Homo sapiens: one gene and its partners. The protein of the gene in region 7 interacts with the protein of the main gene of each other region in a pairwise test. Each region holds a gene or a part of one and is shown on either strand. Other genes may lie near its edges. The genes, in order: CSE1L, FOXO3, ACTR1B, DNAJC28, SMAD6, DPPA4 and MAPK6.

The links.
Region 1: the proteins of MAPK6 (region 7) and CSE1L interact in a two-hybrid assay, tested with the Homo sapiens proteins (one large-scale study listed by BioGRID and IntAct).
Region 2: the proteins of MAPK6 (region 7) and FOXO3 interact in a two-hybrid assay, tested with the Homo sapiens proteins (one large-scale study listed by BioGRID and IntAct).
Region 3: the proteins of MAPK6 (region 7) and ACTR1B interact in a two-hybrid assay, tested with the Homo sapiens proteins (one large-scale study listed by BioGRID and IntAct).
Region 4: the proteins of MAPK6 (region 7) and DNAJC28 interact in a two-hybrid assay, tested with the Homo sapiens proteins (one large-scale study listed by BioGRID and IntAct).
Region 5: the proteins of MAPK6 (region 7) and SMAD6 interact in a two-hybrid assay, tested with the Homo sapiens proteins (one large-scale study listed by BioGRID and IntAct).
Region 6: the proteins of MAPK6 (region 7) and DPPA4 interact in a two-hybrid assay, tested with the Homo sapiens proteins (one large-scale study listed by BioGRID and IntAct).

What each region holds. Positions count from the first base shown.
Region 1 is NC_000020.11:49,091,040-49,094,704, reverse strand, and holds part of CSE1L (exportin-2), read right to left. Parts: intron 2,660-3,665; coding exon 2,578-2,659; intron 566-2,577; coding exon 419-565; intron 1-418. UniProt on the Homo sapiens protein: Export receptor for importin-alpha. Mediates importin-alpha re-export from the nucleus to the cytoplasm after import substrates (cargos) have been released into the nucleoplasm.
Region 2 is NC_000006.12:108,679,200-108,683,295, reverse strand, and holds part of FOXO3 (forkhead box protein O3), read right to left. Parts: intron 3,470-4,096; coding exon of another isoform or gene 3,383-3,469; 3' UTR 1-3,382. UniProt on the Homo sapiens protein: Transcriptional activator that recognizes and binds to the DNA sequence 5'-[AG]TAAA[TC]A-3' and regulates different processes, such as apoptosis and autophagy.
Region 3 is NC_000002.12:97,654,843-97,658,241, reverse strand, and holds the end of ACTR1B (beta-centractin), read left to right. Parts: coding exon 1-18; intron 19-124; coding exon 125-299; intron 300-732; coding exon 733-794; intron 795-1,049; coding exon 1,050-1,090; intron 1,091-1,281; coding exon 1,282-1,384; 3' UTR 1,385-2,303; downstream 2,304-3,399. UniProt on the Homo sapiens protein: Component of a multi-subunit complex involved in microtubule based vesicle motility. It is associated with the centrosome.
Region 4 is NC_000021.9:33,488,606-33,493,459, forward strand, and holds the start of DNAJC28 (dnaJ homolog subfamily C member 28), read right to left. Parts: upstream 3,112-4,854; 5' UTR 2,997-3,111; intron 2,797-2,996; exon of another isoform or gene 2,461-2,796; intron 820-2,460; 5' UTR 789-819; coding exon 1-788.
Region 5 is NC_000015.10:66,708,736-66,712,235, reverse strand, and holds part of SMAD6 (mothers against decapentaplegic homolog 6), read right to left. Parts: coding exon of another isoform or gene 3,498-3,500; intron 1,842-3,497; exon of another isoform or gene 1,763-1,841; intron 569-1,762; coding exon 512-568; intron 1-511. UniProt on the Homo sapiens protein: Transforming growth factor-beta superfamily receptors signaling occurs through the Smad family of intracellular mediators. SMAD6 is an inhibitory Smad (i-Smad) that negatively regulates signaling downstream of type I transforming growth factor-beta.
Region 6 is NC_000003.12:109,327,547-109,331,642, reverse strand, and holds part of DPPA4 (developmental pluripotency-associated protein 4), read left to right. Parts: intron 1-830; coding exon 831-1,119; intron 1,120-2,554; coding exon 2,555-2,753; intron 2,754-3,618; coding exon 3,619-3,655; 3' UTR 3,656-4,096. UniProt on the Homo sapiens protein: May be involved in the maintenance of active epigenetic status of target genes. May inhibit differentiation of embryonic cells into a primitive ectoderm lineage.
Region 7 is NC_000015.10:52,060,281-52,064,376, reverse strand, and holds part of MAPK6 (mitogen-activated protein kinase 6), read right to left. Parts: intron 3,079-4,096; coding exon 2,877-3,078; intron 476-2,876; coding exon 1-475. UniProt on the Homo sapiens protein: Atypical MAPK protein. Phosphorylates microtubule-associated protein 2 (MAP2) and MAPKAPK5.

The DNA of each region.
Region 1 (3,665 bases), on a different chromosome or scaffold from region 7:
AAGGTCAAGAAAATACTCGGAAGACTTAAAACCAGCAATTGCTCAGAGACACAAAATTACAGACTCATAGTCTCAAGAATAAAAGGGGACCTTTGAAATTAAGATGGTTCTTTTCTTGGCTTATTCAGTTCTTCCCCTTAAAGATAAGTCAGTTTAGTTGGGCTTCTGTCATAAAATTGTCTTAGAGATCACCTAGATCAGACTCTTAAAGGGGTCCATGAATCCCCCTGAAAAAGAAGCAGGAAACAAGATCATTCTAAGCCCAGAAGGATCCAGAAATCATGTCTTGGATCTGATTGTGGAGAAGCTGAGATCAGACCAAGATTCTCTTGGCCCCCAAGAGAATAAGCTTTGTTAATTTTGCAGTCATATGGGAAGGAAGCTGTAACTTACAAAAATATTAAAATGAAGTACTTACCACAGTTTGGTATACTCAGTGTCCATCATTGGGGGACATTCTGTTAGTAATTTGGTTATGCCAACCGCACAGATCTTTTTCTCTACATTTCCAGATACCTTCTGAATTTCAGGAATAATAATTTTTTCCAAAACCATTCCAAACATTCTATTAAAGCAAAATAAATCAACTTAATATTAGATTATCACTATAATGAAATAGTAAAATGCTTAGATGTTAGTTACTTCTTATGAATATGATAAATTACTAAATAACAAGACTGCTGTTTTTGATCATCTGAAGAGACTGAAAGTCAAAACATAAAAAAACCCCATCACACCTCTACCCTGTAGCCAAATGCCATAATCTTTTTCTTTTCTTTTTTTTTTTGAGACGGAGTTTCGCTCTTGTTGCCCAGGCTGGAGTGGAACGGTGTGATCTCAGCTCACTACAACCTCCACCTCCTGGGTTCAAGCAATTTGCCTGCCTCAGCCCCCTGAGTAGGTGGGATTACAGGTGCCCACCACCACGCCCGGCAAATTTTTGTATTTTTAGTAGAGATGGGGTTTCATTGTGTTGGCCAGGCTGATCTCGAACTCCTGACCTCAGGTGATCCACCTGCCTCAGCCTCCCAAAGTGCTAGGATTACAGGCGTGAGCCACCATTCCTGGCCCTCTCTGCTTTTTTCTTTAAAAATTACACCTGGCCAGTCTCAAAAAAAAAAAAGAAAAAAAAAAAAAAAAGAGAGAGGAGCAAGGAGGGAAAAAAGGAATCATCCCACCACCCAGAAACAACTAGTTTTAACATTTTTGGGTTATAAGCTTCCCAACTGTCTTTGCTTACATACCTGCAGGTACATAAATGCTAATGGCTATTTAAAATAATTCGGCCAATCATTCTATGTTGTTGCAAACATGCTAGAAGTGAAGTTTTCCGTAATTCTAAATGATGCAAAATCCTCAGTTTATGCGTTAATAGAACCAATTCTTTGAAGTGGAAATATGGCTCAAAGGGTATGGCAATTCTAATGCTCTGGATAAAAAGTGCATACATTTTGCTCTCTAGAAAGATCAGGCTAATTCAGGCTCCCACTAGCAGTGCATGAGATTTCCTCAAAATCCCCTACTGCCGGAAGCCATGTTTTCTGGTCTCCTTTCCAGAGTAATTCATTTTTTAGTCAATGTAGAATTTTTGAGACATAACTGAGGTACAGGGATCTAACTGTCCCCGAAGAAATTTTCCCTAAGAGTTGTTCTTTATCTTATCGTTATAATTGTTTTATTCCCTACTAATGGGAAATGCCACCTAAATACATTCTTTGCATATATACCAGATAAGTCAAAAACAAAGTTAATTTATTGGTCCTAAGTATTTCTCATTTGAAAAATTCTGCTGTGTTTGCATTAGCAGCACATATACTAAAATTGGAACGATATGGATTAGCACGATTTTTTAAAAAAGGGGGAAGGAAAATTCTGGTTTTTTTTTTTAATTATACTTTAAGTTCTAGGGTACATGTGCACAACGTGCAGGTTTGTTACATATGTATACATGTGCCAAGTTGGTTTACTGCACCCATTAACTCGTCATTTACATTAGGTATTTCTGCTAATGCTATCCCTCCCTCTGCCCTCCCTTCCCCTGCCCCCCATCCCACGACAGGCCCCAGAGTGTGATGTTCCCCGCCCTGTGTCCAAGTGTTCTCATTGTTCAATTCCCACCTATGAGTGAGAACATGTGGTGTTTTCTGCTGTTAGTTTTAATAAGGCAGGCTCCTGGAGACAACACTGACCATTTAACATAATATAGAACACTGGCTGTGGAGAATGCCAGTGTGTAGAGTAGATGGTCCTCTAATCTAGAGGATTAGAACAATGATTCCAGGGTGTTTTTTCTTTTTTTGAGATGGAGTCTCACTATATTGCCCAGGCTGGTCTCAAACTCCTGAGCTAAATCCGCCCTCCTCAGCCTCTCAGAGTGTGGGATTACGGGCGTGAGCCACCATGCTGGGCCAGGATTACTTTTTCTTTACTCCCAATACCTAAGAATATTTTGAAAACCATAGACACTATCTCCATACCAAGAACCACATCATCATCTATAAGACAGAGATACTGATTTGTACTAAAAAAAAAGTCAAAACATTTTCTTCCTTTAAAAAATAATAAAAACAAACTTACTTTGGTTGTATACCATCAAATATTTCTTGTAGTGCTAGTGCCCCATATTTTATGCAATACAAATTAATAAAGACTAAAAAACCTGTTGAAAGAAGATGCAGAATATCAGCATAGAGAACTCACGCACTAAACTGGTAACTGATAAGTCTGCAAAATAAACCTATGCTTAATCATTAACATCCAAAGGCTGTGGCATCAATACCTGCCTTCTAGTAAATAGAAAACTTGTCTTTCTGTCATAGACCTTTACATGCTGTCTCTCTTTGATTTATATTTCCTTATAATATTCTCTCTACTGAAAAAATGTTTTGGTATCCAACCATAAACCAACCTCTGGAACACAATATGACTAACACTAACTTAATGTTTGGAGAACACAAACATCTTAAAATATTTTCTTTTTTCTTGTGAGAAGGTTTCACTCTATCACCTAGGCTGGGTGCAGGAGCGTGATCACAGCTCACGCAGCCTTAACTTCCCAGGGTCAAGTGATCCTCCCACCTCAGCCTCCTGAGTAGCTGGGGCTACAGGCACACACCACCATGCTTGGCTGTTTTGTAGAGACAGGGTCTTACCATGTTGCCCAGGCTGGTCGTTAACTCCTGGACTCAAGGAATACTCCCACTTTCACCTCCCAAAGTGCTGGGATTACAGATGAGAGCCACTGCACCAGGCCCTTACAATATTTTCTTTTTTTTTTTTGAGACAGGGTCTCACTCTGTCACCTAGGATGGAGTGCAGTGGGTGTAATCTTGGCTCACTGCAGCCTCAACCTCTGGGACTTAGGTGATGCTCCTACTTCAGCCTCCCAAGCAGCTGCGACTACAGGCACATGCCACCATGCCTGGCTAATTTTGTTGTACTTTTCGTAGGGACAGGGTTTCGCCATGTTGCCCAGGCTGGTCTTGAACTCCTGAGCTCAAGCGATCGGCCTCCCTTGGCCACCCAAAGTGCTGCGATTACAGGCATGAACCTCCACACGTGGCCAAGTATTTTTTGCATAAAGTTTAAAACGGATAAAAAATGTATCTGCAACCATAAAGTCTAAGGGTTTTAGCTACCTTCTTTCATTACTTCTGTAGAACATC
Region 2 (4,096 bases), on a different chromosome or scaffold from region 7:
CACCCTGAGCGGGGCATACTTGTCCTGAGTAGTAAGCCATGGTGTCCTCTCCTCAGGGTGGGGAAGCAACACACACAATGCTAAAAATTAACACCAAAAACAAACACAAAGTCCGCCTTGTACTACACATGTGTGACTGATCCTCCCATTAACAGGAGTGACAAGCTTCTGAATTTTTAAAATGTGTTTCAGCAATCATATTGCAGAGGAAGCAATAAAGGAAACCAAGCTCAGATTCATTCACAGTTAATGGGGTACACTGAGCCTGGCAGCCAGTTCTCATGCCAGGACAGTGAAGGCTTGTGATAAAGCTCTTTCCTAGCTTTGGTAACAGGTATCAGGTTCTGGAGCCCTGGAGAGAACAGCAGATCCCAAGAGCGCATGTCATGTTTTCAACATTAGGTACTCTTCTAATTTCTCATCAAAAAGTAGGCGGCTCCCTAGAGCAGCTTATTTAGAGGCCAAGGGTGGCCTCGGATAGTTCTCATCATAAATCAAACATTACAGCTGCCAGGCCCCTTGAGGCTAAGCATTCTGCTGATATGCTCCAGATCAGAAAATTATTGTTAGGGACCTGTGACACTCACTCAGAATGTGACATGGTGGCCAACGGCTGGCCTGTCCTGAAAGCAGGGTCTCAACATAAGGGGCAGAGGGCTCTGGCAGCACCCCTGCCCACTTCAGAACCAGGCTAGTCTCTGGGGCCCTGGCCTCTCTGCAGGTGGCTGAGGGTGAGGGTGCCGGGACCCTAGACAGGCTTCACTACCAGATTCTCGGCTGACCCTCTCCAGGGGCTGGTGGGTCTCGCAGTACTGATGCTGCACTTGACTTTACCCTGGTCTCAGCTCTCCACAACACTCTACATGTAGATGCTGTTTTAGTTACTTGAAAAAGAAAAAACAAAACAAAACAAAAAACCAAAGCATTCCCTCTTCATTCTCCTGATCTGTTTTGTGCTGCCTTGCCCTTGTACCTTCTCTGTCCCTTCCTCAGCTGTTTCAGATTAAATGATAATCTGGTTCTAGGACATTCTGTAAGACATTCTGCCTGAAATTCAACAAACGCTAGAAAAGGAGAATAAATGAGATACCATGTCTGAAAAGAATTCAACATTTTAAAGTTGAAACACATTGGAGGGTTGCCTTTCTCACTCCCAAAGCAGCTCCCAGGGTCTGTAAAACTGCAAAGGTAAGTAGCTATTTTGTTAGTCACTTTGCATGTTTCTCTGAACTCAGAAGTTCTCAGGACCCTAATGCTGGAAGCACTCTGGAATTCTCCTATCCCCCCACCCTTTTACATCTCGCTCCCCACTCTAGCCCCCATGCTACTAGTGCCTCTGCAATGCATCCCCACACAGGGCAGCATCCCTTAGGAAGCTTGGAGAGGCAACCCTCCTTCACTGCTACTGGAAAGTTCTTGCATACAGCACATTACTAAAGAATCCAGGAAGTGGCTAGCATTATTATAAAGGAATATAGTAAGCAAGTCTGGCTCACTGACAAGCAGACCATATGAATAGAATACATACTTAAAAAAATTACACATACTTTAAAAATGAAGATTATAAACATGTAGCAGTTTAGAAAAGGCAATGTGCTACAGTCTACTATAACCACAATTGCACAACAATTTACAGATTCAGTAAAAGGCAGGGTGAAATCAACAGGGCCATCGCTCAAACATGGCAACCCAAGCGAGGCAGGAGACGTGTGACAATACCAAATGGAACTCTCATTATGCTAGGAGCTGTGATCACCACCAATATCACCCCCAGAGGAGTTATAAAGCCAAGGCGCACAAGGGGGCCCCTGGTGGCCGGTGGTGTGTGCAGGGGGTTGGGTGGCACGTCTGTGTTGGTGCCCACTGTCACGGTGCAAGCATCAGCAAGAACTCAAGCAGGGAAGTCTGTGCTGAAATACTAGCCTGTATTCCTAAGGCCCATGCATAAGGTTCCATTTTTGTACTGTACATGATAAAATATATTTATACATTTATATGCCTAATGCTTTTTATGCAAAGAAAAGAGTCTTCATATATCACTTTGGAGAAGTATGCATATACTGTGCTAATCAGAGCATCGTTATACCAATTTCTTATGTACCAAAGGTGGTCCCAACTATTCCGTCTACCAAAGAAGGTAACGAATATAATCACACTTTCCAGGTTAAACAGAAAGCACCTATACAGCACCATAACTTTTTGAAAACACAACAAAATGAAATCCATAGAAGCAGAAAAAAAAGTTAAAACTGCCCTATTTTGTACTTCCATTGAGTCACTTGTACAATTACAACCTAAGCTTATATTTAAAAAATCAGTTTGTATGCTATTGCCTCTCACTCATACACTTCTAGCAGATCAGATTATATAGCAAGGCTGAAAATAATCAAGGATGTGTATTTAGGAAAACAGTGAAGTTAGAACTGCCTCAGCATTGACTTGGGTTTTTACTCTTCGCACATTTCTCACTGCAAGCTTAATGCTCACCTGTAAGTTCATTTGTTCTGCAAAGCAAAACAGGACTTTTTTGTTTTTTTTTTTTTTCCTTTTCTTTCTCCTTAAAACTAAACCCTTTAGTGACATTTGGCAATGAGTGGAGAGCTGAGCTGATTTCTTTCCTGAAAATATCAATATTCTAGTTTCTAACCAGCAGACCAACACTGTTCACATTAGCTGAGGACACTGACAGGAAATCACAGGCCCTACTGATCTGGCACCCGTAGACTTGGTGCTGGGGTCCCGTCCACAGATCACCCTGACTCAGAACCGGAAACACACTGGGCCGGACGCTGTGCTCCACTCCTTTTGCCTATGCACGGTTCTGTCCTGGACGGGTGCACATAGCAAACAATTGTGCCATTGTTCAGTTTTTAGAAAAGGATAATTTTCTACCAAACAAAAGAAGAAAGAAAATCCCCCTTTAGTTTATGTAATTTGTTAGTTTATGGAGTTCCATGCGCTCAAAAGCTTGTGATGCTCGAACCCGGAATGGTAACTGGTACAACATTTTCTTTCTGTTTTTAAATTTGCTAGGGGAAGGACGGTTAACATTTTAACAGAAAAATACCGCAAGTTAATGCATGTGAAAAACTCAGAAAGTCAAAGGAAAACAAACACAAGAACAACACTTAAAACGTCCCATAAACCATCGCAATATTAAAACACCACAGAATGGCCGACGGGGGCTCACGGTGTGCTCTGAATGAGGGTGGGTGGTGCTGAGGGGTGCTGTCCTCCACTGGCAGGCGGCTCACCACCCTGTACAAGGAAGATTTTGCATACTTTTTAGAGTTCTGTTCCAAGGGTAAGTGCTTCACCCAGGGTAAGGGGCCATTAACAGTCTCTGCTGGGTTAGGAAAATGGCGTGGGATTCACAAAGGTGTTAAGCTGTAAACGGTATCACTGTCCACTTGCTGAGAGCAGATTTGGCAAAGGGTTTTCTCTGTAGGTCTTGTGTCAGTTTGAGGGTCTAAAGGAGGAGAAAAGAAAACCAGAGATCATTAAGGGCACTGCAACAGCAATAGTGGGCACCTGAGGGCCACCTGTCAAGGCCTTCCATCTCCCTCACCCACCTCAGAGCCCAGGGCTAGCACAGCAAAGCTGCTCTGCTACACCAGTTTCAAAGGTCTGAAATCCTAAGGACAAAGCACAAAGATTACTTACCTTATTTCTCATGTTGTCCTTATTACAAAATGCTCTGAAGTTGAAAAGCCCAAAGGGAATGGGATCATTCACTTTGGGAGATAAAGAAAGCCATATTAGGGGTGTTTTGGTGGGTCCTTTTTAGTTAGATGTTCAAGGTGCAGATAAGATTCTGTTCTAGACTTCCGGACTGAGGGATTTCCTAGGACATGGGACTTTCCATGCTAAAACAAGGAGAGCCGCTCATCCTAAGTAGATGAGTTATACTTTTCTGGTTCTTCCCTACTGGCTATGTGGACTAACTGAATTGCTTACCACCCTTTTCCACGAATACCCCAACACCAGTGGAGATGAAATGGCCACTTTCTATAAAGGCCTTAATAAGTCTGCAGTGCTGGGTGTGGGTAATCTTGACTCCCCTATTCCCCACCATAAAAAGAGTAAGTAATTACTA
Region 3 (3,399 bases), on a different chromosome or scaffold from region 7:
GACGGCAGCACGCTTGATGTAAGTGGCCGGGCCTGGCACTGGAGTGGCAGCCGATGCCCAGCCTGGGGGAAGGGGTAGCCCGCTTCTCCAGGAAGCCTGTCTGCCTCAATCTTGTACACTAAAGGTGGGGCCTGCACGATTCCGGGCCCCCGAGCTGCTGTTCCAGCCGGACCTTGTCGGGGATGAGAGTGAGGGGCTCCATGAGGTGGTGGCCTTCGCCATACACAAGTCCGACATGGACCTGCGCCGGACGCTGTTCGCCAACATCGTGCTCTCAGGTGGCTCAACGCTTTTCAAAGGTACTGTGGCTTGAGAGTTGGTGGTGGTGAGACGAGGCCCAGGGCAGCTGGACCCTCAGAGAGTATACCCCTACCCAGAGCCATATTCTGTTGGCTTTTTGGTGGTGCTCAATGAACATTTTTTTTAACAGACCAAAATTTAAAATTAAATTTTGTTTACTCTGTGAATAGAGGAGAAGTTTACACAAGCTCTAAAGTGTATTGTGAGAGTCGAGCAAGGAGCATGTGCGGCTTCATCTCACGCTGCCTCTGTGAGGACGCAGGGCCCGCAGGCAGCCATGGGGCTGGATCATTTCTCAGCCTTGCCCTTCATCCTGGGAAGAGCTGCTGATAGAGGACCAGCAGTAGCTGGGGGCCCTGAAGGCTGGGTGCGGGAGCTAGCAGCGAGGAGGCCGGGTGCAGACCCCAGGCTCAGCCAGCTTTGTGTTCACAGGCTTCGGAGACCGATTACTCAGTGAAGTGAAGAAGCTTGCCCCAAAGGATATCAAAATCAAGGTGAGGTTACAGAAACTCCCCCTGGGGCACTAGGGCGCTGGCAGCCTTGGCATGGGGAGGAAGGTTGAATGCTGCCCCCAGACCCGCTCACCAGCTCACGTCCACCTAGTCCTGTTCTTCCCAAGGCTGCTGCTGCCACTCCCCAGCTTATGCCTTTGCTGTCAGGCTTCAGGACCTGGGGAAGGTGACCCCAAGGCTGGGAGGATGGCTTCTGGGTGGGGATCCACAGTTAACGTGGCCACTTCCTCCTTCTAGATCTCAGCCCCGCAGGAACGGCTGTACTCCACATGGATTGGGTGAGGCGGGGCTCAAGGGAGGGCTCTGGGAGGAGACCACTTTACCCTGGATGCTCCTCCCATTGTTGGCCTAGGCCACGTGGAGGTGGGTGGATTTCCCTCCCAAATTAGGGAAATGCAACTCTGAGCACCCAGGAAGGTGGTTGGCTCCCTGACAGGTCCACAGCAATACTATCCCTCCATCCCCACAGCGGCTCCATCCTGGCCTCGCTGGACACTTTTAAGAAGATGTGGGTGTCCAAAAAGGAGTATGAAGAGGATGGCTCCCGTGCTATTCATCGCAAAACTTTCTAGTGCCCAAGGAGGGCGGGGCATGTTGGGAGAGGGGGAGGGAGGGGAGACAGAGCCTTTAACCCTTTTTGGTCTTGGCTCGTATACTAGGCTTAGGGTCCCCTGCATGCCCTGAACCCCTGGGTGGGTGGCACAGCAGTGCCCCCCTGCAGCCTTCCCCTCTACACAGGACATGCACACACAAGTAACATTGAGCTGCATGGACAGGAGCCTTGAGCTGGCGTGTGGGAATTGAGCGCCATGTCAGGCTGTTGTGGGTATCCCCCTGGCAGGGCCAGCTAGGCCTGTGGTTCCCTGCTCCGACTCTCAGGGCTGCCTCCCTGAGCTCCAGGGCCAGAATGCCTGGATGCCTGGGTAGCCAGTTTGGGGAGTGGGCTGCAAGGGGCAGCCAGCAGCTCCCACTGGTGTGTCACTGCATCCATTGCCACCTCCTGTTCGTGACCTGACAGGGTGACACAGCCCCTTTCACACTCTGTCCTCCTATCTTCCTGGGTAGATGCCCTGGTGTAGGGCTGAGTACTGAATGGTCTTCCATCCCCAGCAAGGGGGTGCAGCCCAGGGTCAGGCCCTTCAGAGCCAGGGCAGAGGATGCACGGTGGCTAGAGCCGCTGCACTATCCTTTTCAGAGCACTTCATCCACTTGCTCCTCCCTCTACCCTCGGCACCCTGGGTGGGAAAGGGTTGATGCTCATCATTTATTGAGGGGAAGCCACTTAATAAGGAGTCAGACCTAAAAGGGGGTGGGGGACATTTTCTTACCTCACCCAAGAAAGAGGTCGTCACTTTTGCTGTGGCCAGGGCCCCACCTCCCTCTCTCAGATATGTACAATAATTTAACACGGTTGCCTGAAAAAAACTTTTGTAAATCATTATAGTAATAATTATGGACAAGGCCCAGTGTGTGGCTCTGTTTTCTTGTGGCTCTCTGTGCTATCGTTTGTTCTTCCATCCCTGGGGACTTTCAGAGAAAGGACCAGAGAGAATGCAGCAAGGCACTGGCTCTAGCTTAGCGGCATGAAGGTTTCAGTGGTTGGCCCGCCAACGTGGCACAAAAAGCCTCAGGAGGCTGGGCTCTCACCCTGTAGCATAATTCCCTCGCCTGTTACCTCCCCTGCTGCAGTCCACCAGGGGAAGTAGAACCAGGCTACCTTCTTTGCCCCCGGACCCTGGACAGGCCTATTTGAGCACCTCTGCTCACCCCATTCAGCCAGGGCTAAGGCTGGTGGACACCAGCAATGATGCAAGCTCACGCCTTCAGACAAGTCAGGATGGGGAAGGCAGGGAGAGGCAGAGAGGCTGTGAGCTTAGCCAGGCCCTAGAGGAATAGGCAGAAGAGCAGTGAGGAATTAGGGTTTGGAGAATGTCTGCTCTTTACTTTCTTAAGTGTTTGAGAACCTACAGTGTTTCCAGGATGGTGCCGTGTGTTTGGGGCCAATGGTCAACAAGTTATATCCTTGCCCTAACAAATACACACGTCAAGGGAGAAAGACAGATGAGCCATTTTAGTACAGAGTTGTGGGGGCCGAGGCGTTAGTCATCTGGCCCGACAGGTGGGGCAGGCCGACTTGCAAGGATCCAGAGGTTATCCAGGGATGGGGAAGGCATTCTATGCAGATGTGAGAGCCCAAAGAAGCACCTGGGACCAGTGGGTCTGGAGAGGAAGGCAGGGACCCAATGCCCAGTCAGCAGGGAAAGGTCAGTGGTCTGTGGTCATTGTGTGAGATGAACAAAAAAGGTGGGTTGAGCTGGCACATGGAGGATTGTTAGCTGTGTCCTGGGAGATGGGTGGCCAGCCATAGAAAGATGGTGACCAGAGCAGTGTGTTGTAGGCAGTTGGGGTTTGTGGGGGGTGAGGGCAGCCCCAGGACTGAGGAGATGAGGTAGGAGTGAGGAGAGTACTGAGGCCTGTCTGCCAAGGCGTTTTGTGAGGCTTTGTGGTCACAAGGCAGTTATGCTTGCACTGGCCCTCAAAGGGAAAGCAGAATTTGCACGGAGAACTCCATATTAGGGCACCCTCC
Region 4 (4,854 bases), on a different chromosome or scaffold from region 7:
ATTTCCTTTTGCTTAAGGATCCATTCTGGTTGGTATCCATTATCGATCAGTATTCGGTTCAGGTTGTGAGTCATGGGATCAATGTAAGAACAGTCAGAAAACTTTTTCAGAGGTTTTCCTTTCCCACTGAGATTGTCAAAGTCTCCTTTTGCCATGGATTCTTGAATGAGGTCCTCCACTAAACGTTCTATAGCTTGCGTTATCTTTTGCTGTTTGCTCTGTCTTATATTTTTAACAATTACACTATCAGGAAAATACTGGCTTTGTAGTTTCTGCTTTTGATATTCCATCACTTGTTCAGCAGCACGGTCTGCCCTAAATTGCCTATAATGCTTCTCTCGTTGAGTTGGAGTCCCAAAACCAATACCTTCAAAACTTAAATAATGTCGGTGTTGGGGTGTTTTATATTTGAATTTTTCTACATCTTCTTCTTCTTCACCTTTACTCTGACTGGCATTTGTTTGTTCTATCACATGGGAGAGCACCTTTCTATAAGCTTTTTCAATCCTTATAAATGTTGCAGAATCAGCAGTATTAGAGCCACTGTCAGGATGATATTGCTTGGCAAGCTTATGAAAAGATTCCCTGACTTCATCTGCAGAGCATCCTTCCTCCACGTTCAGCAGTCTATAATATTCTCTGATCTTCTTTTTGGATTTATGGGTTGACATCATTCTATTTCTAATGATACCAAAATATGGAAGCATTTTCACTCGATTAGGAATCACTGTAGCCTTTATCAGGTGAGATCTTAAGATCTGAGCCATCATCACATACATTGTATTCATTATTGTACCCAGAGTTCTTCCTAGCAATGACCTATAAAACGACAACAAATATAGGTTGAACAAAGTTGTATTATCAGTTAATTTCTTATTTTCAGCAATAAGGTAAAAGATACAGCATGAATTTATAAGTACAACAAGGGGCAGTTCTTTTGAATGCTGCTGTCAACTTTTTCCTTTTTTTTTTTTTTTTGAGACAGAGTCTCGCTCTGTCACCCAGGCTGGAGTGCAGTGGTGCCTCCACCTCCAGAGCCACGCCTAGCTAATTTTTTTGTATTTTTAGTAGAGAAGGGGTTTCACCATATCGCCCAGGCTGGTCTGGATATCCTGACATGGTTATCTGCCCGCCTCGGCCTCCCAAAGTGCTGGGATTACAGGTATGAGCCACTGCGCTCAGCCTTTTTTTTTTTTTTTTTTGTCTGAGACAGGGTCTTGCTCTGTTGCCCATGCTGGAGTGCAGTGGCACAATCGTGGCTCACTGCAGCATCAACCTCCTGGGCTGAAGTGATCCTCCCACCTCTGCCTCTCATGTTGCTAGGACTACAGGCGTGCACCACCACACCTGGCTAATTTCTGTATTTTTGTAGGGATGGGGTTTCGTCATGTTGCCCACCCTGGTCTCCAACTCCTGAGCTCAAACGATCTGCCAGTTTCTGCCTCCCAAAGTGCTGGGATTATAGGGGTGAGCCACTGTGCCCAGCCACATTCTTTTTTCTTTTCTTTTCTTTTCTTTTTTTTTTTTTTGAGACAGAGTCTCACCCAGGCTGGAGTGCAATGGCATGATCTCGGCTCACTGCAACCTCTGCCTCCCGGGTTCAAGCGATTCTCCTGCCTCAGCCTCCCAAGTAGCTGGGATTACAGGTGCACGACACCACTCCTGGCTAATTTTTGTATTTTTAGTAGAGACGGCGTTTCACCGTGTTAGCCAGGATGGTCTCGATCTCCTGACCCTGTGATCTGCCCGCCTCGACCTCCCAAAGTGCTGGGATTACAGGCGTGAGCCACCGCACCCAGCCCCACCAGCTGCATTCTTATAGCTATATTTCACTGATGTGGGCAGAAAAGTGGAAGCTGATGAAGTTTAGTGTTAACATATTGTGGGGCCAGGCACGGTGGCACACGCCTGTAATCCCAGTACTTTAGGAGGCCGAGGTGGGTGGATCACCTGAGGTCAGGAGTTCGAGATCAGCCTGGCTAACATGGCAAAACCCTGTCTCTACTAAAAATACAAAAATTAACTGGAGGTTGCAGTCCCAGCTACTCGGGAGGCTGAGGCAAGAGAATCGCTTGAACCCGGGAGGTGGAGGTTGCAGTGAACCGAGATCGTGCCACTGCACTCCAGCCTGGGCAACAGAGTGAGACTCTGTCTCAAAAAAATATAGATAGATAGAATCTGGATTCTACCCCTCACTAACTAACCGTATATTTTACAAGTGGAAAGTTCTTAGAGATCATCTAATCCAATCTTCTCATTTAATGAGAAAACGTAGGTCCGGAAGGTTAAGCAATTTAACCAAGTCCCATAACAAGGTGTAAGCAAAATGGTTAGGGGTGGGCACAGTAAAAAAGGAGGCTTGCTTAACTGTCTATACCTCCAGCCGATTATAAACTGCACGAGAGTCTGCATCATCTCAAGAAGTCTTCTCATAAGACGACTTATGGACAAGGTACGTACCTGGTCTGATACTGGATTGAATAGAATCAAGTGTCCAAAAGACTTTAAGCTCCACAGCTCGCTAGGAAGGAGCTATCTGCCAGAGGCCAGAAAAACCATGATGAATTGTGAGGCCTCCCAACACGTTTGCTGCTATTGCAATAACATGGTCTCGAAGAGGAGGAAGACTTGTACACTGACAATGGCCAAAAAATACTGGAAGTGGCTTAATTGGAATTGGGATATATAAACGCTAAAACGGAGCTCCTGAGACCCCCTATTTTCTAGGCAATCGGTGCCAACGGTCTGGGAGCCGGCTGCGAAGGTGGTTATCATGGCAAGGGAGGTCGGTCCTGCCCCGCCCCCTCCTCACCTGCGCAGACCTGGGGTAGGGGTTCCGCGGCTCCCGCCCCCCTGCCGCGCCTCTGCGCATGCGTGCGCGGTCCGCCCTTCACTGCGGGTGTCCCTCCCACCGCCTCCAGCTGGTGCCTCCGCCGGGCTAGACCATTTGCCACTTTACACTGAGGGGCTCGGGGGTACGGAAGGCAGAATCGTACCTGATTGGGACAGGTGACCTTACCAGGAAAACGGACAATCTTCCGCCAAACGAACTTTACCCCGGAGGACCCAGGCAGGGCACCTCGGGAGCCTTCGTCCCGACCGGGGACCACCAGCTCCACCTCCGTCCCCGCCCCGAGCGGAGGTGGTCCGGCCGATTGGGATTGTGGGAGATGTAGTTCGCTAGAAGGGGCGATGTGCGCCTGCGCCTCTCGGGAGGGACTTAGGGGGCGTCGAAAATGATGTAAAGACCGAGTTGGCGGCGTGGGGAGTTGTGGCTCGGAGGGCGAGGGTAACTTTCTGGGGGCAGGGGAAGGCAAGGCTGTTTCCCCGGAACGGGACCGGAACAGGTTTATTCGGGGTCACAGAAGGAGTCACCTGCGCAGATACATGAGGCTTAAAACCTGCCCTTTTATTAATTCAAGTACTGTTGAGGGGCTGGCGACAGGCCAGAGGACAAAATCAAAATAGGGATCTTCTGGCTTGGAGTTCAACCACTGACGTGGGGACTGAGCATTTCCCCTCTCTGTACAGGAAGCAAGTTTTTTAACAAGGAAAAAGAAAAAGGATAAAAAGAAAAAGGCAGAGGCTTGGGAGTTTTCAGATCTGGGTTGAAAATCCTGTTTCTTCTGCTTGCACCTTAGGCAAGATACCTGCAAAATGAGAGTTGCAATAAATAGTAAACTATAGTAAATAGTATGCCATTGTGCTAAGTGCTTTATGTATATTCTCATTTACTTTTTTTTTTTTTTTTTTGAGACAGAGTCTCGCTCTGTCGCCCAGGCTGGAGTGTGGTGGCGCGATCTCGGCTCGCTGCAACCTCCACCTCCCGGGTTTAAGCTATTCTCCTGCCTCAGCCTCCCGAGTAGCTGGAATTACAGGCGCGCACCACCATGCCCAGCTAATTTTTTTGTATTTTTAGTGGAGACCAGGTTTCACCATGTTGGCCAGGCTGGTCTCGAACCCCTGAGCTAAGGTGATCTGCCTGCCTCGGCCTTTCAAAGTGCTGGGATTACAGGCATTCATTTAATCTTTACAACAGCCCTCTGAGATAAATGCTGTTATTTTCCCTATTTTACATATAATGAAATAATAATTGTATCAACTTCATTGACTTTTTTAGGGGGAGAATTACACAATGTATGTAAACCACTTGGCACTGTGCCTCGCACATTAAGCAATATTTTTTGTTATGACTGTGTCTCCTAAAAGGAGCCAGAAATAGGTATTAGCCTCCTCAGCTTCTACATCATAAACATTAGAATCATTTATTGCCATCTATGTAGGAACACAGAAAAAGATACAGTATAAACTCTGATTCTGAGGGCTTTAGTTATAAGCAAACAATCAACAAAATAACTCATGTGAAAGAAAATAGGATTTCTGGCCGGGCGCGGTGCTCACGCCTGTAATCCCAGCACTTTGGGAGGCCGAGGCGGGCGGATCACGAGGTCAGGAGATCGAGACCATCCTGGCTAACACGGTGAAACCCCGTCTCTACTAAAAATACAAAAAATTAGCCAGGTGTGGTGGCGGGCGCCTGTAGTCCCACCTGCTCGGGAGTCTGAGGCAGGAGAATGGCGTGAACCCGGGAGGCGGAGCTTGCAGTGAGCCTAGATCGTGCCACTGCACTCCAGCCTGGGCGACAGAGCCAGACTCCGTCTAAAAAAAAAAAGACCTGGCCACTAAAAAATTTTTAAAAAGAAAAATAAGGCCAGACGCAGTGCTCACGCCTGTAATCTCAGCACTTTGGGAGGCTGAGGCAGGTGGATAACCTGAGGTCGGGAGTTTGAGACCAGCCTGACCAACACGGAAAACCCCCATCTCTCTAAAAATACAAAAAATTAGATGGGCGTG
Region 5 (3,500 bases), about 15 Mb from region 7:
ACATTCCTTTTTAACACTCCAATTGTTGTTTCTGCTCAAGTGAACATCTTGGCTTAAAAAGGGGGAAAATGTACAGCTCCTCTCAACAAAGACTTCATGCCCAACCTATTTGTCATACTACTAATTAATACACTCTAAAGGAGAATAACCCAAGGCTGGGGGGCCCAAGAGAGAGGAAAGAGACACAGAAATGCCAACCCACCTCCGGTGAGATGCATAAGTCAAAACCCATTCATCTTCGACAGGCCCATGTTTAAAAAGGTCACAGAGAGGTTAATGATGAGCCGCGGAATTTCGAGATGTAAATAGCCTGCTGCAGAAGCTGGGTCTGCTTTGGCCCAACTGTGGGAGTGTTTGTACAACTTCACCCCATTTCACAGCAACCAGTCCGGCTTTCACCCCTCCCCTCCAGCCCTCCAGCCCTCCAGCCCTGAGGCTGGACAGACACTGGGCTGAAGAGGACCCAGTTCGGGACACACCTCTGCAAGGGTAGGAAGGAGGGCACACTTACCCAGTGGCTTGTACTCGTCGCGAGGAGACAGCCGAGAGTAGGGAGGTGGCGGAGATTCTGGAAGACAGGAGACAGCATGTCACTGCCAGGGTTGGGGAGCTCACACCTCAGGTTCTACATGCTTTTAATTACTGGTTTCCCAAATAATAAACTCAGCCTCCAGGAAGCCCTCCCTTTGTCCCACCTCCTCTGCTGCCCAAATCCCCTCAACAGTTAAAGCCGCAGGCTTGGGGCACAGACAGATATGGGCTCAATCCCAGCTCTGCCACCTTTGGCTGTGTGACCTCAAGCAACTTACTTCACCTCTCTGAGCCTGTTTCCTCAGCTCTAAAATGAGGATAATAATCATCTAGACCTCCCAGGTTTGCTGGGATAATGTATGTAAAATGCTTAGTGCAGCTCTTGGCCCTGTCCAAAAACACCTCCATAAACAGTAACTGTTACTACTTTAACAAGAGAAACGTGAGTGCAGGGAAAGTCAGAGCCAGGGTTGCTGGATAAAATACCGGATGCTCAGTTACATTTGAGTTTTGGATAAACATGGCATCATTTTGTAGTATAAGTGTGTCCCTTTCAATATTGGGGGTGTACTTATACTAAAATATGGTGTGTTGTTTATCTGATACTCGAATTTAACTGGGCATCCTGCATTTTATTTGCTAAATTTGGCAAGCCTAGTGTGAGTGCAAAGGCCCAGACACAGAAACTCGTGTCCAAACAAGCTGCATTAGAGCTAGCATTCCTAGGTGCAGGGGAGGACAGTAGAAAGGGTTAGGACCCAAAAGGCCAAACCCAGCTATCTCAATAGGCCTTAAGCCAGTCACTTCCAGCTGTTGGCCTCAGTCTCCCCTTTTGTAAAGGACAGGGGTGGAACACAAGCTCTCTACAGCTCAGATGCTATGATTCCTTATTGTCTATGATATTTTTCTTTGGGTTTCATTTGCCTAAAATACTTCTCCTTAAAAACATATACTTTGCTTTCAGAAGAATTCCTTAGCTTCTTGCTTTATGGGAAGTAACAATTTGCTAAACTAAGTAACAATTTGCATGAATGAAATGACCCTTCATTTTCGGTAAATGAAACTAAACACAATCAAATCGCAAACTAAAACAAACTCTCAGTGGTAATAACTATTATTAAGCGGGTATCAGTAATGACACAAGGGGTAATAAGTGTTTTTCACAATTGTAATAAGCCACAATTAGTTACAGGAGCATTTGTTTTGCTCCATACACCCAATGAGGCCTCACCTCTTCCCCACCCCGGCTTTTCCAGCTCAAAGTTACTTCCAACAAAGTCAAAGCTCTGAGGTTTAGAAACAGAGACTTTCTGTGGACAGAAATTAGGGAGAAGGAAAAGTGAATCACAGAGTAGCCACTGAGAGAGACGCGAACATTTGCTCGGTGTCTACGTTGTGTCTCACTCCATGCCAATCACTTTCAATTTTACTATTTTAGACCTCAGGTACAGAGTAGTTAATTATGCTCATCAGGCACCTATTTTTATTTAATCCTTTCTCAAAATACAAAAATTAAATGAGATGACATTATTATCCCCATTTTACAGATGAGAAAACTGACTTGCGCATGTTCCCCGAGCCAGTCATGGTGGAGCTGGGATTCCAGTCCAGGCCTGACTCTGCTCTGCCACCCAATAAGGTGGAATCAAGAGATGCCCTGTCTTACACCCCTTCATCCCCGCTGGGTCTGGGACACCACCTGCACAGAACGCGCTCACTAAATGTGGACACAGACAACTGGGATGAGGATAATGGTAAAGTTGAATGCATCTGTGGCCAAAGATGTGCAGAAAGAGGATCTAGGGGGCTCTCAGGCCTAGAGGCCAGCCTTGAGTGAGGACCAGCCTCTCAGGATAAGAGGCAGGGCATAGGAAGGGCTGGAGTTCCACAGGAAAAGAGAATTGAGGCCAGTGTTTCCACTGTACAGAGAAGGAGACTGTGGCCTGGTGAGTGGAAGTGACTCCCTCAGGAGCTAGGTATCGAGCCAGAACCAAAGCCAGGTCTCTGACCTCCATGCCCTTTCCACCACCCCCATGAACTTATCAGAAAGCCTGCAATTCCTTAGGGTTACTTTTGCAAAAATCTGACTGGCTGAGGTCTAGGCCACACATGGCATGGAGCTCTGAACATCTGCCCCCAAGATTTGTCCCCAAAGGTGAATCTTGACAACTATGGGCAGTAGTGGCTGGAGTCAAGCCTCTGTAACCAATGCCAGCATCTCTTCCAGGGGCTGCTTACCTGGGACTCAAAAGGTGGAAGGCAGGAAAGGCTCATGAAGTCCCACCTGGAAGAGCTACCTGGGCCTTGAGTTGTGACACCTGCTACCCATGGCCATAGCTGAGTTGGGAGTTCCAATGTTGTGAGATAGAAAGAAAATCTATGAACCTGAACCATGAGACATGCCAGCTAGTGGAGCACTACAAACCGTTCAGGAGGGACCTCACCAGGCTCCCATTAGCTCTGGCAAAATAGTATGCACACAACTGTTTAACAACTGCAGGGACTGAAAGCTAATCACTAAATTCCATTGTAGGCAACTAAAAAAGTATGAAGGCTTTAGACTCCACCCCACAACACAAGGATTTAGAGTGTCAAAGACAGAAGAGGCCTTGGGGTTCACCCAACTCAATTCCTTCTTTTCACTGATATGAAACTAAGGTCCCACTTGCTGAAGGACCTGCCCAAGGCCACACATGAAGGTAGCTGCAGGTGTTACAGGGGAGGCCAGTTACAGACCAATATCAGGTGACCCTTTCCAAAAATTGAGATATAATTCACATACCCTAAGATTCATCCTTTTTAAAAATATACCATTCAGTGGTTTTTGAGTATATTCACAGTGTTGTGCAACCATCAACCACCATCTAAACACAAGACATTTTTTTTATCGCAAAAAGAAACACCATCCCCATTGGCAGTCACTTTCTAGACCCCAACCCCAAAACCCTGGGCAACCACTAACTTACTTT
Region 6 (4,096 bases), on a different chromosome or scaffold from region 7:
TGTTCCTCCACCCCTAGTTCTAAGAAAGAACAATATTTCCCATCTCTACTTCTCTTTTTTTTCTTTCTTTCTTTCTTTTTTTTTTTTTTTTTTTTTTTTGAGACAGAGTCTTGCACTGTCACCCAGGCTGGAGTGCAGTGGCACCATCTCGGCTCACTGCAACCTTCACTTCCCGGGTTCAAGCAATTCTCCTGCCTCAGCCTCCAGAGTAGCTCGGATTACAGGCGCCTGCCTCAGGTGATCCACCCACTTCGGCCTCCCAAAGTGCTGGGATTACAGGCGTGAACCACTGTGCCTGGCCAGCAATTTTCTTTTTTTCTATTTTTTTCTTTTCATTTCTTTTCTTTTCTTTTCTTTCTTTTTTTTTTTTTTTTTTTTTTTTGAGACAGAGTCTCCCTCTGTCACTTAGGCTGCAGTTCAGGCTGCAACCTCTGCCTCCCTGGTTCAAGTGATGCCCCTGTCTCAGCCCCTGGAGTAGCTGAGATTACAAGCATGAGCCACCATGCCTGGATAATTTTTGTATTTTTAGTAGAGACGGGATTTCACCATGTTGGCCAGGCTGGTCTCGAACTCCTGACCTCAAGTGTTTCACCCACCTTGGCCTCCCAAAGTGCTGGGATTACAGACCTGAGCCACTGGGTGGCCAACTGAGCAATTTTCAAGAAGACAGTACATTGTTATTAACTATGTATAGTTACCAACTTGTACAATAGATCTCTTGAACCTAGTCCTCCTAAGTGAAACTTTGTATTTGATCAAGAGCTCCTTAGGCCATTTTTGTTAGAATTTTAATCTGTATTTTTATCTTTATTATTTAACCCTTTTTGTAGGATTTTCCTAGCACAGCAAAAGAGGCCAAAATCCGGAAATCATTGCAAAAAAAATTAAAGGTGGAAAAGGGGGAAACGTCCCTGCAAAGTTCTGAGACACATCCTCCTGAAGTGGCTCTTCCTCCTGTGGGGGAGCCGCCTGCCCTGGAAAATTCCACTGCTCTCCTTGAGGGAGTTAATACAGTTGTGGTGACAACTTCTGCCCCAGAGGCTTTGCTGGCCTCCTGGGCGAGAATTTCAGCCAGGGCGAGGACACCAGAGGCAGTGGAATCTCCACAAGAGGCCTCTGGTAAGCGCAACATGAAGAGCTTATTCTGGTCCAATGGGGAAATAAGCTTAGTAGATATTAATCACTGGTACATTTTAGGGTATATCAAAATCCCTTTGAGGGCCGGTGATTCCTGGACCCTGCCCACAGAGTTTCTGGTGCAGGTCTAGGGCAGGACCTGAGCATTTATTTGCATTTCTTTTTTTTTTTTCCTTTTTTTTTTTTTTTTTTTTTTTTTTTTTTTGAGACAGTTTCTCCCTTGTTGCCCAGGCTAGAGTGCAGTGGCGCGATCTCAGCTCACCGCAACCTCCACCTCCCAGGTTCAAGCAATTCTCCTGCCTCAGCCTTCCTGAGTAGCTGGGATTACAGGCATGTGCCACCATGCCCGGCTAATGTTGTCTTTTTAGTAGAGATGGGGTTTCTCCATGTTGGTCAGGCTGGTCTCGAACTCCCGACCTCAGATGATCCTCCCACCTTGGCCTCCCAAAGTGCTGGGATTACAGGCGTGAGCCACCGTACCTGGCAAGAGTTTGCATCTCTAACAGTTTCCCAGGCAGTACTAAGGATGCTGGTCTGGGGACCACAGTTTGAGAACCACTGCTCTAAATTATTGATGGCATCAGAAGGGGATAGCAGTCTGGTTTTCTTTCTTTACCCTTTAAGCAATTTAAATTAAAGGCAAGGTCTAAAATTAATTGCCTGCAACTGAGCCCCAGAATGGCATTAATAAGTTATTTAAAATATTTCCCAGCGTTTTCATTGTAAAATGGGTAATACCTACCTTATATGTTGGAAGAATTACAGAAAGTACAACAAAAGAAGACAAACTGCTTAGCATAATCCAATGTGTGTTAAGAGCTGAGACCCCTGAGCTTATTTCATGAAGCCCTTTCCAGACACTCTGGGTTAGTCTTTCTACCATCTGCCCACCTACAACTATACTACTTCCAACTAGATTTTTAAGTTTTAACAGGAACTGTCTTGTATGCTTTTTGTTTTGTTTTGCTTTTGATATGGAGTCTCGCTCTGTCACCCAGGCTGGAGTGCAGTGGTGCAATCTTGGCTCACTGCAAGCACCGCCTCCCGGGTTCACGCCATTCTCCTGCCTCAGCCTCCTGAGTAGCTGGGACTACAGGCCCCCGCCACCACGCCTGGCTAATTTTTTGTATTTTTAGTAGAAACGGGGTTTCACTGTGTTAGCCAGGATGGTCTCGATCTCCTGACCTCGTGATCCACCCGCCTCGGCCTCCCAAAGTGCTGGGATTACAAGCGTGAGCCACTGCGCCCAGCTTGTATGCTTTTCTAAAGGAGAACAGAATAGAGAAGAGGTTAAGTTAGGATTTCAGGGTTCACATCTTGGAGCTGGTCAATCAAGGGTGATGGGCCATAATGCAGTCTTACATCAGTATGTCATCCTGGTGTGCGGGTACCTGTCTCTTTCCTTTGCCATTGCCAGGTGTCAGGTGGTGTGTGGTCCATGGGAAAAGTCTCCCTGCAGACACAGATGGTTGGGTTCACCTGCAGTTTCATGCTGGTCAAGCCTGGGTTCCAGAAAAGCAAGAAGGGAGAGTGAGTGCACTCTTCTTGCTTCCTGCCTCCAATTTTCCACCCCCGCACCTTGAAGACAATATGTTGTGCCCCAAATGTGTTCACAGGTAATTACCTGATGCTTTTCTACAAACTAAAAGTGGGTGCCGGATTTTCAATTGCAGAAAGTTAAGATATACATTAATCTTAAATAGCCAGGTATTTCAAGCTCAAATTGTCAGTAAAGAGTTTCAAGAAAATTATTACTCAGTTAAGTTTATCCCCAGGAAAAAGAAAGCATTTATGTGTCAGGGTTTAATGCTTCTACCTGGAGACACAGAATTCTGGGAGCAACAAACATTATATAATTACTATATTCAAAGTGTATGCTCTACACAGAAATAATGACTAGCAAAAAACCTCTTCCTTTAAGTAGCCTACAGTCTTAACAGGGATGGTGGGCATGTAAACACCTAGAATAACATGATGAATATCAAAGAAGAGGTTCCTTAAGTTAAGGGAAGAATCGACTAGATGGAAAGGAGAGATCGGTAATTTCTCAGCCTGGGAAACGTAGCAAGACCATCTCCCACAGGAGGAAGTATGTGAATGTGTGATTGGCTTTTCCTTCTTTGGGATATCCTACTTTTTGCTGTGAGTGTTTTGATAATCTCTCTATGCCAAGCAAGTTGAAGAGAACTGAGGAGGTCACTTTGGGTAGTCCTTTAATGACATACTTAGGTTTTTGGGAAAGTGATGAAAAGAGCCCCTCCAAGGCCTCCTGTCCATGGTTGGCACAAGTCAGGGAATATATTACAGAGGCATGATAACTTGGCTGATGATCTTCATTCTTGAATGACAGGATCACAGGCTTGCTACCTATGATCCTAAAGTTGTAAGGGCAATTTCAACAGCATTCCAGCAGCGGGTTTCTTGGCTATTTTTAATATTTCTTCATTCTTTTTAAAAACAAATACTTTATTTGCTTTATAGGAACAAGGTCTTAATAAAAAGCCTCCAATGGGAATAGAATATCAGGAAAAAGGCCACATCTATGGTAATTAATGGCAGAAAAGCTGGAGAGTTGGATTCTGCGGTGCTGCTGACAGGTGAACTCTGGTCCTCTGCACCTGTTTATGGGCCATGCAGACTGGTGGGGTGGCAGATGTTAGCCTAAGACCCCTAGCAGTGCCTGTTGCTTTGTGAGTGGAGATAGAGACTCTTACATTTAAAAATGGAAAAACATTTCACAAATTACCATAAATTGTAGTTAATATGTAGAAAAACTCATTCATACTACTTTTCTAAAATAGACATGACTTCAGCAGCAGCTTTTTTTTGTTGTATTTTGAGACAGTGTCTCACTGTTGCCCAGGCTGGAGTGCAGTGGTGCAATCTCAGTTCAGTGCAATCTCCGCCTCCTGGGTTCAAATGATTCTCCTGCCTCAGCCTCCTGAGTAGCTAGGTACAG
Region 7 (4,096 bases):
CAGTTGCTGTGATGCTTCCTCTAGCGCTATCTGGGCTTTAACCAATCCATTCCTTTCACATTTTGATTTGCCTTTCTTATCAGATTTTTCTTTGCTTTGTTCTTTCCAATTGGAAAGATCTATAATAAGCTTGGGTTCATAGTAATGGTTAACTTCACTCTCTCTCCAAACTAAGTTATCTAAATATGATGATGACCTCGTTTTGTAGTTACAAGTATGGCTACACTCCAGATCACAATATTTGTTTTCATGATGATCTGAGTATTGCCAACAAGGCTCAGTAGAGTAATTGGTATCAAAAGCAGGATCCTCCAGATACTTTTCCCGATCTCCATCCAAATATTTTCGGGGATCAACTTGTACTTCTTCTTCATCAGTGACATCGGACAGAGCTCTTGGATCAAGCTGAACTTCATCAATATCAAAGTTGTTATGTACAGGCCAATCATGCTCTGAAAACTGACAATCATGATACCTGAAAAAAATCAATACACTAGCGTTATTCTACGTATATGATTTCATTTTCAAATTCACCGAGTACCTTCTATGTGACAGCACTGTGCTAGGTCTATGAGGGGATAATTATAGGAGAGTAAATATGCCTGCCTTGCCCTACCAGAACTTAGTCTTGATAGGAAAGCTCTGTTAATATATTTGGTAATTGCCAATGCAGTATGTAACTTCATTTCCAATTTGTTTTTTGTCCACCAGTTCCATGCAAACAAAAGACTTCATAGCCACAAAATGCAGATCTCAAATCTCAATCAGGTACCTTACAAATGTTTACTCTACAGTAAGGGCAACTAGAAGAGGAGGAGGTTTGCTAAATGTTTACTCTACAGTAAGGGCAACTAGAAGAGGAGGAGGTTTGCTGGAAAACTCATCACCATGAATAGCAAAAATCTCCCTGTGTATACGTGCTGCTGAATGCGCTATCCTATTACTGACATGTATAATCATTGAGGGAAAAGAAAAGAGATTAGATAACTTAGCTAGGTAAAATAGAAAATGCAGGTCAGGTGCAGTGGCTCAGGCCTGCAATGCTAGCACTTCAAGAAGGCCAAGGTGGATGGATCACTTGAGGTCAGGAGTTTGAAACCAGCCTGGCCAACATGGTGAAACCCCCACTACTAAAAATACAAAAATTAGCTGAACATGGTGGCGGGTGCCTATAGTCCCAGCTAGTAGGGAGGCTGAGGCAGGAGAACTGCTTGAACTCAGGAGGTTGCAGTGAGCAGAGAGATGGGCACCATTGCACTCCAGCCTGGCAACAGAGTGAGACTCCGTCTCAAAAAAGAAAAGAACCATTATTTAGGGGGTAGAAATGGACACATGGAGAAAAAAAGTAGTTTGCAGATTTGTGTAAACATACCATACCAATACATCAACATTTGAGGAGGGGGAAAAAAATTTCTTCTTAAAATCTTAAGATTAAAAAGATTGGCATTAGTGGTTCCCAAACTTGGCCATACATCAAAATCACCTGATGACTCTATAAGCTACCATCCTACTCTGAAGCATCAAAATCACCTGATGACTCTATAAGCTACCATCCTACTCTGAAGCAGAATTATATCTAAACTTCCCCAGAAATGTATTTATTTATTTATTTGAAACGGAGTCTTGCTCTGTCGCCCAGGCTGGAGTGCAGTGGTGCAATCTCGGCTCACTGCAACTGCTGCCTCCCAGGTTCAAGTGATTCTCCTGCCTCAGCCTCCTGAGTAGCTGGGACTACAAGAGCCCGCCATCAAGCCTGGCTTATGTTTGTATTTTTAGTAGAGACCGGGTTTCACCACGTTAGCCAGGCTGGTCTCGAACTCCTGACCACAGGTAATTGGCCTGCCTCAGCCTCGCAAAGTGCTGGGATTACAGGCATGAGCCACCGCGCCCAGCCAAACTTTCCTAGAAATCCAATTATTTCACTTTATGAAACATCAAAATATGGATAACATTATACACTAATGTTTAGACCTAAAAAAGTCTCTTTTACTGAACCTATGTTAAGTGTCCCCAAATTAATTGTGTCATTAGGAAAACAGATTCAAATACTGGCTGAGTACGGTGGTTCACGCCTATAATTTCAGCACTGTGGGAGGCCAAGGCAGGCAGATCACCTGAGGTCAGGAGTTCGAGACCAGCCTGGCCAACATAAAATCCCACCTCTACTAAAAATTAGCTGGGTACCTGTAATCCCAGCTACTCGGGAGGCTGAGGCAGGACAGTGAGCTGAGCTTGCATCACTGCACTCCAGCCTGCACTCTAGCCTGGGTGACAGAGTGAGATTCCATCTCAAAAAAAAAAAAAAAAAATCCTGCATCTAATATGAATCAAATACTTTTTATGTTAAGATATAACTACCACTGAGACACTGGAGATACTTTATTGGATATGACTGAGTCTTGTCATCTAACATCTTAAATTTTTGACATTCATAAAATCACAGTTAAAGGACTTTATAAATATGCCTTAATGACTTTGAAAATGTTTCAAAGTAGCATTTAACTTTTCCCATATATCATCTAACCAGTAATTACTTTATTAAATGTTTTAATTAACGGCTATTTATAGATATAAATATTAAGGACCATTACTAAATTTTTCTTTGAGATGGAGTCTTGCTCTATTGCCCAGACTGGAATGCAGTGGCATAATCTCGGCAGCCTCGGCCACTTGGGTTCAAGTGATTTTCCTGCCTCAGCCTCCAAGTAGCTAGGACTACAGGCGCCTGCCACCACACCTGACTAATTTTTGTATCTTTACATTACTAAATTTTTAAGACTTCTACAATGTCTTATACATAATTTTAAAAAAACTCACTACATATGGTCCACTGAAAGTTCAGTAAATATTATTTTTCTAATTTAGGATCAATTTACCTTTCCCAGTTATAAATGTGACTGTGAGTTTCATCCATAAGCAAAATATCATCAACTTCATCTTCAATATGAAAAGGATGGCTTGAAATTGGCTCATCCATTGGAAAAGAATATATGCTCATGTAAGGATGGGAGAGTGCTTCTTCTGCTGTTAACCGATCCATGGGGCTAAATGTCAAAATTTGTTCCAGGAAATCCAGTGCTGCAGAGGAAAAGGTAAAAGTTTTTCAGAAAAGAATTGCTTACCTTTAGAAAAACAGTAAATGTTGATCTCATTTATTTCAATGACTAGCTAAGTGATTACCTTAGCACTACATACTACACAACAGGAAATGAGCATCTTAATTGTACTAATAGGTCCCCATCTTATAAAAGGGAAAAATGGACTACACAATTAAAAAGTTAATTTGTCAGAAATAAAACTTACCTGATTTACAACTTAAAAACGATTTTCTGGCTGAGTGTGGTGGCTCACGCCTGTAATCCCGGCCTAATATATAGGTTTTAATCCTAGCTCTGCAAGTCACTGGCTTAACTCAATTACTAGCACTGTAGTGCTGGATAGGCTACTAAAACTTGATGAACATCAGTTTCTTCATGCATAAAGTAGACATAGATATTTCATAAGGTACAAAAATGAGATGTAATCATAGTGTCTGGTATGTAATAAAAGCCCTTTCCCATCCTTCACTGATGGGAAGTACAACAGTAAAACATCTCTGTTGTACTAATTTCTTGATCTCTGCTTCACATCACACTCCAGCATAGTTCACACACTGACCTTGCACATCTTAGGACTCTGGTTAACCACAAATCCAGTTCTTCCCATAAAATAGTCTAGTAGGCCTTCCTTAGTTCCTCACGCAGCCTGAAAGCTATATTTACACCAGCCACACACTTCTATGCCTTATGATATCAACCTTCAACCCTGGATCACCACCACCATCTACTCTCTCTGCTCCCTGGCCACACAAAACTGATGAAAACTAGCTGCAATATCCCATATCTGGCTCATTACAAATTCATACTAAACAATTTCATTGTGACCTTTGCTATCTGGCCTTCTCTTTATGCTCTCGGTCTTCTTTATCATTCTCAACAGATAAACCCACTTCACATTTGTCTCAATCCCTACCTCTTCACTATGGTCACTCACACATCCTCTTATCCTTGCCTTCTAAGTGAGAAAGATGGCCTTTCTCTCTCAAGCCAACCTGTAC